Linked DNA regions of Homo sapiens. The protein of the gene in region 3 purifies or fractionates together with the protein of the main gene of each other region. This does not show direct contact. Each region holds a gene or a part of one and is shown on either strand. Other genes may lie near its edges.

Region 1 (3,731 bases), on a different chromosome or scaffold from region 3:
AAAGTGCCTGTAGGCCTGGCTAGATTTTTTTTTTATTTCAATAATGTCAAGTTTCTTTTTTTTTTTTTTTTGAGATGAAGTCTCACTCTGTCACCAGGCCAGAGTGCAGTGGCACAATCTTGGCTCACTGCAACCTCCACCTCCCAGGTTCAAGCAATTTTCCTGCCTCAGCCTCCCGAGTAGCTGGGACTACAGGTGCACGCCACCACGCCTGGCTAATTTTTGTATTTTTTTTATTAGAGATGGGGTTTCACCATATTGGCCAGGGTGGTCTCAAACTCCTGACCTTGTGATCCACCTGCCTCAGCCTCCCAAAGTGCTAGGATTACCGGCGTGAGCCACCACGCCCAGCCTCTTTTTTTTTTTTTTTTTTTTTTTTGAGACGGAATCTTGCTCTGTTGCCCAGGCTGGAGTGCAGTGGCACAATCTCAGCTCACTGTAACCTCCGCCTCCGGGGTTCAAGCAATTCTCCCTGCCTCAGCCTCCCAAGTAGCTGGGATTACAGGCACCCACCACCATGCCCAGCTAATTTTTGTATTTTTTAGTAGAGATGGGGTTTCGCCATGTTGGCTAGGCTGGTCTTGAACTCCTGACCTCAGATTATCTGCCCACCTTGGCCTTCTAAAGAGCTGGGATTACAGGTGTTAGCCACCGTGCCTGGCCATTAATGTCTACTTCCTATTTGGATTTTAAAATGTTGTTACCTACTTCTTCAATCAACTCTTAGCTCATTAATATTCAACCTTTCTTCTTTGCTCATCTAAGATTGGATGAACCTCTAAATATTGCCTTCACTATATCCCAAAACTTTTCAGGGGTAGTATTTTCCTCATTATTCAGTTCTAAGTGTTTTTAAGTTTCTTTATAAATTCTTCTTTGACCCATGTGTTGTTTACATAGGAATGCTTTTAAATGTCCACATTTATGGGGATTTTATGTTCAGCTTTTGTGTACTTATTTCTAATTTAAAAGCAGTGGGAATACTGGGAAATCATCTTTATCCCAAGAGAAAAAAAGGTGAGAGCCATGATTCTCTTTCCCAGTATCTGGTTCTGGCATGACACAACTTAACTCTCACCCCAAACAACTCTAAAACTAGACAAAATACAGGAACTCACCATTTCCAGCACAGGACTAATGAGAGTGAATGGCAGAGGGCTGTTTCCTGAGCAAAGGAAAGCATGTGAGCACCACATTCACCCTGACCTTCTGCCTGGGGGCATTTTCCCAAACCACAGCAAAGGGAAACAGAGCCCAAGCAGAAAGTGGCAGTCTCATTGGGCAGCAACAGAGTTTAGGTGACAGGAATTTGGGGACAGAGGACCAGAGAGGAAGGAGCCACACAGAAGTCCAAGGAATCTAGGTGTCTGCCTCAGGTCCTTGGTTGAGGCCTAAGCTGTCCGTGGTGTGGGACAAGTACCGGGAGGCCTTAAAGAGAACAGTCGCTGTGAAGGTGGGGGAGAGGGCTCTGAGAGAGACACAGATGCCAGAGGTCTCACAGTGCTGGAGACAATGGAGTTCCAACCCAGCAAGGGGGACAGACCTTGGCAAGCACCCGGAGCACTCACCTGAGACCCTACAAAAGCCAAGTCTTAGGAAAAATGGTGTTACCCAAGAAAAAGACTCACAATGGAACATTCCAATCCTAACTATGACACACACACAAAAACCCTTAATAGGATAAAAGATCTGCTAGTAATTTAATCTTTGCTAGAAAAATTTCAACACCATTTAGAGGACAGTAATAGAAGTCTCCATGATATAGCATCCATAATATCCAACATACAATAAAAAATTACTATAGGCTGGGTGCAGTGGCTCAGCTCATGGCTATAATCCCAGCACTTTGAGAGGCCAAGGTGGGCAGATCACTTAAGCCCAGGAGTTCGAGACCAGCCTGGGCAACATGGCGAAACCCCATTTCTACAAAAAATACAAAAATTAGTCAGGCATAGTGGTGCATGCCTGTAGTCCCAGCTACTAGGGAGGCTAAGGTGGGAGGATGGCTTGAGCCCAAGAGGTGGAGGTTGCAGTGAGCTATGACTGAGCCACTGCACTCCAGCCTGGGTAACAAAGCAACACCCTGTCTCAGGAAAAAACAGAAAACTATTTGTAAAGGGGCCTGAAAATTTTACCCATAATCAAGGGATAAATGTCAACAGAAGCAGATCCACAAATGACTCAAATGTTGGAATTAGCAGAAAATGATTTTATAATAACTATTATAAAAATGTTAATCTTAAAAAAGAGACAAAATAGGTGAAAAGATGAAAAAGTCCAGCAGAGAAATGGGAAAAAAGAATAAAATGGAAGTTGAAAAATATCTAAAATAGAACATTCATTAGATGGGCTTAAGAGCAGATTGGACATAGGAGGAGAAAAGATCAGAGAATTCCAAAACAGGTCAGTTTGGAAGAGTGGGAAAGCCTGTGACCATGCACATATACTGAGACCAGTTAGCAAGGTTGTGTGAATGTCTTCAGGGGCTCAGAGGGTGAGTTCAGAACAGGCAGAGGGCTGGGTCCAACTAGGATTAGTGTTCTGCAAGCTATAACCTAGTGAGAAAAGGGCAATGGAGTTAAAGATGTTTGAACTAAGGTAGTTATTGACTATAGAATCTAGGCTAAGAGGGAAATGAGAGAACAAAGAGAATATTGAATAATGAAGAAATGGTGGGGTCAGCAGACTTTGTGTGCCTACGTGAGCCAATGCATCAACTGTTGGACTGAGGCTGTAGAGCCTTGCTACTAAAATGTGGTCCCAGGGCCAGGAGCATCAGCACCACCTGAAGCTTGTGCTAATTCCCAGGCCCTACCCTACATGTACTGAGTCAGAATCGCTGGGGCTAGGGCTCAGAAAACTGTGTTCACAAACCCTTTTGTTGATTCTGATGCTTGTTAAAGCTTGAGAACCATTCTTCCAGAGTAAGAGAGCTGCAAAGACTGGGGGACAGCGCAGAGTGGGATGCTTGAAATGGTTACAGCAATCACAAGGTCTGAAATACAGCTAGGGGGATGAGAAACTGTGACCAAGTGGAAGAAAAAATCATTAGGAAGACACAACAATCCAGGTGGGGTGCAGTGGCTCATGCCTGTAATCCCAGCACTTTGGGAGGCTGAGGTGGACGGATCATTTGAGGTCAGGAGTTCGAGATCAGCCTGGTCAACGTGGTGAAACCCTGTCTCTATCGAAAAAATATAAAAATTAGCCAGGCATGGTGGTTCACACCTGTAGTCCCAGCTGAGGTGGGAGAATCCCTTGAACCCAGGAGGCAGAGGTTGCAGTGAGCTGAGATAACTCCACTGCACTCCAGCCTGGGCAACAGAATGAGACCCTGTCTCAAAAAAAAAAGATACAATGGTCCAGGAAGTAAGTGACTGGACTCTTAGTCGAATCATCCACATGGATGCTAAATTTGCATGATAATAAGACAGAAAGATAATGAGCCAGAAGCTGAAGTTTTCAGTGAAGGGCATAACACAGAGAAGAGCAGACAACTGCTGCCAGGAAGGTTCCTAAGCAGTATAGTCTGACAGTCTGCCCTTTCAAAGAGGGCTTAAGAGAGAAAGGAAGAGAAAGAGTTTGAAATTAGCAAAGGGAGTCACCTCTGACAATCTTTTTTTTTCCTGTTTATAGAGATGGGGTCTTGCTATGTTGGCTAGGTTGGTCTCAAAGTCCTAGCTTTAAGCCATCCTCCTGCCTCGGTCTCCCAAAGCATTGGGATTACAGGT
Region 2 (3,731 bases), on a different chromosome or scaffold from region 3:
CCACGCTGGTAGAAAGAACATTGGTTTGGGAACTGGAAACAGATCTCTCTACCTCTTCCTGCCCCTCAGGAAGGGCTAGGGCTATGCTAAGCATTTGGAGAGCCTCAAGGACATGGCCAGGATGACTTTTAGCCTTCTGACTGGCACTACACCATGGTGGCGTGTGTAACTGAAATACAGACACAAAAAGAGAAGACCTTCATCATGAGTTCAGTCTTGGACATGATGAGGAAATGAGGTATTCTGTGAGAACCCCAACTGGAGGTACTGAATGTACAGTGAATATACTGACTTGAGAACTCAGAAGAACCTGCCTAAAGTGCCCAAACTAGACCTGCAGCCTCATCGGATCATGTTGTAAATTCAAGTAGATATAACAAGCTGATTTCCTAAAGCCCAAGCCAAACTGGTAAAGCACAAGAAGATAATAAGGAATGTCTTTAAGAAAGAGAATCCTGGCCAGGCCCGGTGGCTCACACCTGGAATCTCAGCACTTTGGGAGGCTGAGGCAGGCAGATCATAAGGTCAAGAGCTTGAGAGCAGCCTGGCCAATAAGGTGAAACCCCGTCTCTATTAAAAAATACAAAAATTAGCCAGGCACGGTGGCGGGCGCCTGTAGTCCCAGCTACTCAGGAGGCTGAGGCAGGAGAATCACTTGAACCCGGGAGGCGGAGGTTGCAGTGAGCTGAGATTGCGCCACTGCACTCCAGCCTGGGCAACACAGTGAGACTCCGTCTGAAAAAAAAAAAGAAAGAAAAAGAAAAAGAATCCTTCTCCTAATCACTCTGAGACAAGAAATATGTCTGCCTGTTCTACCACAAATTTCAGGTCATTATCTTCTACATGAATCCCTAAATATAAAGAACAAACAAGTAATTTAACATAGCAACAAATAAAAATTATACAGGGAGACAGCACATGGTATACTATCTGGAGAGCATTACCTGTGACACTCAAGCTAGGTTGTGAGTACAAAGGAGATTTATTATTTAAATTGTATACATTTCATATGCTCTTTTAAGTGTTGGCAGTAGTTCCAATAAAAAAGTTAAAATCAAAGACTTAGTCAAAGTTTCCTACAACTCCAAATGACCTCCATCAAGTGATTTTTCACTGCTAAAAGAGGCAAGTTCAAAGCATCCTTTTCCCACAAACACTATGCTGTCCTCTCCTCTAAATTCCTGCTCATATGACTGCACCTAGAATGGATATTTTCCTCTTCTCTATCCATTTTCTAACCATCCTTCAGGTTCTAGCTCAAGGTCCACTTCCAACTAAAAGGTCTTCTTTGACAAAATCCAGCTTCCACAAATCTCTTTGTTAATGGCAATATTTCTTATGGTCTGAACTTCTCATGAAACTCATTTCCATATTGTTTTGATTTGCTACCTGAATTTACAGGTGCTTCTACACTAGTATAGAAGAGTACTGGATTTGGAACCAGAAAATGTGGATTCCAATGCCCCAGCTACAGATCTCTGACAAGATTCTTTTACCACTCTGAGCTTCAGTCTTTTCACCTATAGATTACCTCAAATCTGTAAGGACCAAATTGGCACAAGAAATGTGAATTAAGGCCAGGCGCAGTGGCTCACACCATAATCCTAACACTTTGGGAGGCCGAGGCGGGTGGATCACCTGAGGTCAGGAGTTTGAGACCACCCTGGCCAACATGGTGAAACCCCGTCTCTACTAAAAATACAAAAATTAGCCGGGCGTGGTGGTGAGCACCTGTAGTCCCAGCTGCTTGGGAGGCTGAGGTGGGAGAATCATTTGAACCCGGGAGGCAGAGACTGCAGTGAGCCGAGATCGCACCACTGCACTCCAGCCTGGGCGACAGAGTGAGACTCCGTCTCAAAACAAAAAAAAAGAAATGCGAATTAAGTACCATTCAAACCACACATCAGTGTTCAGGAGATATTTATGGCTTTGGCTGTTTGGTGGATTTCTAATCTATACTATAGGGCCATAGAAGCCAGAAACTGATTCATACATAATAAGAGAGGGAATGAGATGTTTCCTAAGTACATTTCTAGATAACTGAAGCTTATCTCTTTAACTGCTACAATCATTTAGGGTTTGGGGTTTTTTTACTCCCATTTTGGATGAAAACCTCTGTAGAATATAAATTATAAATTCCCTTCATAGACATAAGACACAAAACATCTTTTAACCTTTCAGTTATAATTAGGATCAGCATTATGGATTAAAATTACTCTAATGAAGTATATATAGTGACTCACTAAGCTGATATGCAAAGAGTTAATTATTGTGGTTTTCACTTTATGCTTGTTTTTGCACTTCTTCTCTTTCTACCCCCCCATCAAATTATTAACACATATCTCTAATAACTCTATTCCACATTTACTTGCTACACCCAATTCTTTTTCTTTTTTCTTTTTTTGAAATGGAGTCTCACTCTGTCACCCAGGCTGGAGTGCAGTGGCGTGATCTTGGCTCACTGCAACCTCCGCCTCCCGGGTTCAAGCAATTGTCCTGCCTCAGCCTCCTGAGTAGCTGGGATTACAAGCGTGCACCACCACACCCGGCTAATTTTTGTATTTTTAGTAAGACGGAGTTTCACCATGTTGATCAGGCTGGTCTTGAACTCCTGACCTCGTGAACCGCCCGCCTTGGCCTTCCAAAGTGCTGGGATTACAGGCATGAGCCACTGTGCCCGGCCTACTTGCTACACCTAATTCTGAGAAACCAGGTAACACTAGGTCTGTTTTGCTGCACGAGTTCTGGATACAATTTGGTGATTTTGAACATAGCTATCAATCACTCAGCTTTTTCCAGGCTGAGTGGTGGATAGCTACGTTCAAAATCACCAAAGTGGCTGGATAAATCAAAGTTCTTACTTTGATTTAAACCATACTTCTTTTGTAGATCATCTCATACTAGCCAGACCCTCTATATAGGAGCTCAAGATTCCTGAGGAACTCAAACTGCAAGCTCTATTGGCGACACACTGGCACAGATCGATAATATTATCTTCACAATGGATAATAATCACCATGAAGCAATGCTGTGCCAGAAACTTTAATAAAGTATTTGTAATTTAAAGCCACCCCTGGGAGCAAACCACTCCTGGGAGCCATTCTTAAGTACAGTATCAAAACTTACCTGCAAGCCGGGAATGGTGGCTCACGCCTGTAAACCCAGCACTTTGGGAGGCTGAGGTGGGAGGATCACTTAAGGTCAGGAGTTTGGGACCAGCCTGGCCAACATGGAGAAACCCCACATCTAGTAAAAATACAAAAATTAGCCAAGTGTGGTAGCACACGCCTGTAATCCCAGCTACTAGGGAGGCTGAAGCAGAAGAATTGCTTGAACCCATGGGGCAGAGGTTGCAGTGAGCTGAGATCGCGCCATTGTACTCCAGCCTGGGTGACAGAGCAAGACTCTGTCTCAAAAAAAATTAATTAATTAATTAGTTAAAAACTTACCTGAAATAAAATTAAACAGATTTCCAGATTTGCTGCTTTGCCATTAAAGATCTTTATGTACAGCGCTCACACCTATAATCCTAGCACTTTGGGAGGCTGAGGCAGGCAGACCACTTGAGCCCAGGAGTTTCAGACCAGCCTGGGCAACATGGCAAAACTCCATCTCTACAAAAAAATTAGCTGGACATGTTGGCATGCAACTGTAGTCCCAACTACTTGGGAGGCTGAGGTGGGAAGATCGCCTGAGCCTGAGTAGGTTGAGGGTGCAGTGAGCTGTAATCC
Region 3 (3,500 bases):
ATCATCTTCCCCTCCTTTCTCCACCCAATCGCTGTCTACAGAAATGCTAGGATACAATTAAATGTCAGTTCCTCTTCAAAATTATCCAAAATTTCCCAAGCTCCTTCAGTCAAGCCATCACACACTTGTAGGTGGCAGGCATCTTGTAACTCTGCTATTTTTTTTAAAAAAAGCTCATCTCTCCAAGTAGACAGAATGCTCCCTGAGGACACAGAATGCACCAAATCATCTTTAGACATCACATAGAACATAACACTGCTTTTCACAGGTGCCAAACTATACAGAAAATGTTGGCTTAATTGAACTGAATTTCTTAACAACCTGTTCAGAAGACGCAGCAAGGTCAGCAGTCAGGTTCCTACATTCCCATACAAAAAGGTCTTTAAGCACAGGCATAGGAAGGAGGGTTTCATTGAAAAAAAAATTTTTTGCAGAAACTTTAATGTGCCATTTTAAACCAAAATAATCAGAATCTTCTCTTAAACCATAAGGCATTTGTCCATACTAAATCCCTAGGCCTCTTATACATCATAATGTGAAAGCCGAACATTTACTAACAGTAGCTATAATGTCTGAAAAGCAGATCATTCACTGTGCCAGTCATAATTTATTTATTCAGAAGTGTATCTTATTTCAGAAGGAGTCAATGAAACTTACATAAATACATATAATACAAGCTAAAATGACATATCTAAGAGAAGAGAAAAATGGTGATATGGTTTGGCTGTGTCCCCACCCAAATCTCATCTTGAATTCACAAATATTGTGGGAGGGACCCAGTGAGAGGTAATTTGAAACATTGGGGCAGGTCATTCTCATACTGTTCTCATGATAGTGAATAAGTCTCACAAGATCTGATAATTATATAAGGGGAAGTTTCCCTCCACAAGCTCTCTTCTTCTCCGGTCTGCCACCATGTGAGATGCACCTTTCACCTTCAGCCATGACTGTGAGGCTTCCCCAGCCACGTGGAACTATAAGTCCATTAAACCTCTTTCTTTTGTAAATTTCCCAGCCTTGGGTATGTCTTTATCAGCAGCATGAAAACGGGCTAATACAAATGGGATAAAGGAAAATTGAGTGTAGGAAAGATAAACTGTCCTAGGAGTGAGGTTCATGTACCAGATGAATGTATTCCATAAAAGTCTGCACATTTGCTAGAGGTAGGTCAGGCGTTTGGCTCTTAATACTTGTAGCAGCCAACAAACCCAGGATGGCCCAATCAGTTACATAATTCAGCATCCTTAAGATAAATAGGTAATAGAGTACTATTTCTCCCTTGGTCCTCATTAAAATGACACTATATAATATAATAAATGATTTCCTCAACAACATTCTTGCAGTTATTTCTCAGAGCTAAGGAGACTATTCCTCCAAACAACCCTCACAGGCAAATGACAGCAAACAATTCAATAAAAGCAAATGATGGAGAGGAAAGCAGGAGGGCCAAGCAAGGGGTTCAGATACACAGTTCCTTGCAGAGCTAGATGCATCAAAAACAGATTTTATTCTATCTAGACTAATCTGAAATTCAGAGGCTTCATGCATCCACTTGTCTCTGAAACTACAAAGAAAATTTGATATGCATGTCCTTTTTTCTGGGGAATATGTCTGTAGTTTCATAACATTCTCAAAGAGCAGCATGACTCAAGAAAAGTTAAGAACCACTGATCTAAAGAATAAGACTATATATATATTCTTCAGGCAACCCTCCATAAGGAGTTTATTTTCTGAGCTTCTGAGAAGTGCTGAGCCTCAAGACTGCAGTCCCTGGCAAGCGCTTGAAGTATGGCTTCTCCCTCATGCAAAATGTGGAACTCTGGGCTTTAACCACTGGCCAAGCTGTGTGTCAATTATCAAGATACATAAGACCTTTAATAGAGTAGTGCTCATGAACATATGGAGCACATAACAATCTATTCTTCTAGCTAGGCTTCAGCCATGAACATTGATAGAGGTGCCAAAGGATTTGGTGATATTTCTTCTAGATGGTATTAAAAAAAAAAAACAAAAAAAAAACCACCTTTTGCCTGTAGATAAAAATTACAAGTAAGCACAAAAACAATGATTTTCCTAGACAAAAATCATTTTTATCTTAAAATAATCTTTCTACATCAATTTATATAACGAGCTCCTTTTTACCTTTTTGTTGTTTTAATCTTGTTATATAAGAAGACAATCACTGCCATACCTTTAGACACATACACACACTGTGAACCATCCACACACAGTATCATGGTTAGAATCAAGGGAGGAAGCTGGCCTGTAGGACCACTGAGATAAGGCTCTTTAAAATCTCATCCATCTAGAAGAAGCCACAGCCCTAGAGAGTCTGGTCCTCAGCATAAAAAGTCCAGAGACATATCTTTGCCGAAGAATTCACAGTTAAATATGCTCAAGAGAACTAACTCATGGTAACCCAAATCATAAGAGGCTGAAGTACAAATCAGAATACCAATTTCTTAATTAATCATAGAGAATATTCCTTTTGACTAGTAAGAAAATTTACACCTAAAGCCATGACACACTTTTCTCAAATATCTGGATAACTGAAATCCTGAATTAGTAATCAGGAGTCCACTGAAAGTTAGAACCTTGAGATATAGAGAGTTTGGGGGATAGCTAATAAATTATCCCTGCACTACATACATCTTCATAGAGATAAAAGTTGTGGCTCACACAGGAAGAGTCTCTCTCCCTTGAATAGTGCTGCCCCAGCACTGCAGACTTCTTGGTCTTCTTGGCCTTTCCTCTTCCATATCCTTCTCTCCTTTAGGTACTTCTCTAGACAGGGTATAATACAACTGATGAAGGTGCACCTTACAGGCATTATTATCCCTATTTTTTAGATAATAAACTCCCAGATAAAGCTGTTTCAGCAACTTGTCCAATGTCGCAGCTAGAATAAAGCAGAGCACAGATTCAAAGCCAGATCTCAAGTCAAAACCTATGCTGCTAATCTTGAAGTAAACAATACCTTCAAGGCGTTTTTTCCTGGGCCTTCCTACCTACCAGTCTGATTTAAATGTCCCTCCTCTGTGTCACCGTAACACTCTAAGCGCACCATGACTATAATTTTTGGTGTAGAGGTCTATCTCTCTCACTAGACTGAAACTTTTTGAGGATAGGGGTTATATTTCATTCACCCTTGTATCCCCAGGGCACCATCTATCTAGGTAAATATTCAAGCCAATTTGTCCAGTGGTTTCATATAGAGATCAACAAACTGAAGGCCTTGAACTAGCCACATAGCCTTAGGAAGGTCACAACTTCTCCAGCTATCAGCATCTCAGCTTAAAAGAAAAAAAAAGGGTGAGGGATGAAATTGATATACACAGATGAAATGGATGTACAAGGATATACAAGGTAATGTCTCCTCTGCATCTAAAGAGTACTACAATTACAGACGGGCCCTAGTTTTTGATGGTCTATCTTACTAGTGTGAGTTATTAGAAATAAAATTAAACTCCTCATTTATCGTCTGCACCATTCTAGAGCTA

The links.
Region 1: the proteins of PPM1L (region 3) and TDRD10 purify together in Homo sapiens (affinity purification with mass spectrometry; one large-scale study listed by BioGRID and IntAct). This does not show direct contact.
Region 2: the proteins of PPM1L (region 3) and TTC27 purify together in Homo sapiens (co-immunoprecipitation; one large-scale study listed by IntAct). This does not show direct contact.

What each region holds. Positions count from the first base shown.
Region 1 is NC_000001.11:154,522,544-154,526,274, reverse strand, and holds part of TDRD10 (tudor domain-containing protein 10), read right to left. Parts: intron 1-3,731.
Region 2 is NC_000002.12:32,634,357-32,638,087, reverse strand, and holds part of TTC27 (tetratricopeptide repeat protein 27), read right to left. Parts: intron 2,834-3,731; exon of another isoform or gene 2,757-2,833; intron 1-2,756.
Region 3 is NC_000003.12:160,759,231-160,762,730, reverse strand, and holds part of PPM1L (protein phosphatase 1L), read right to left. Parts: intron 1-3,500. UniProt on the Homo sapiens protein: Acts as a suppressor of the SAPK signaling pathways by associating with and dephosphorylating MAP3K7/TAK1 and MAP3K5, and by attenuating the association between MAP3K7/TAK1 and MAP2K4 or MAP2K6.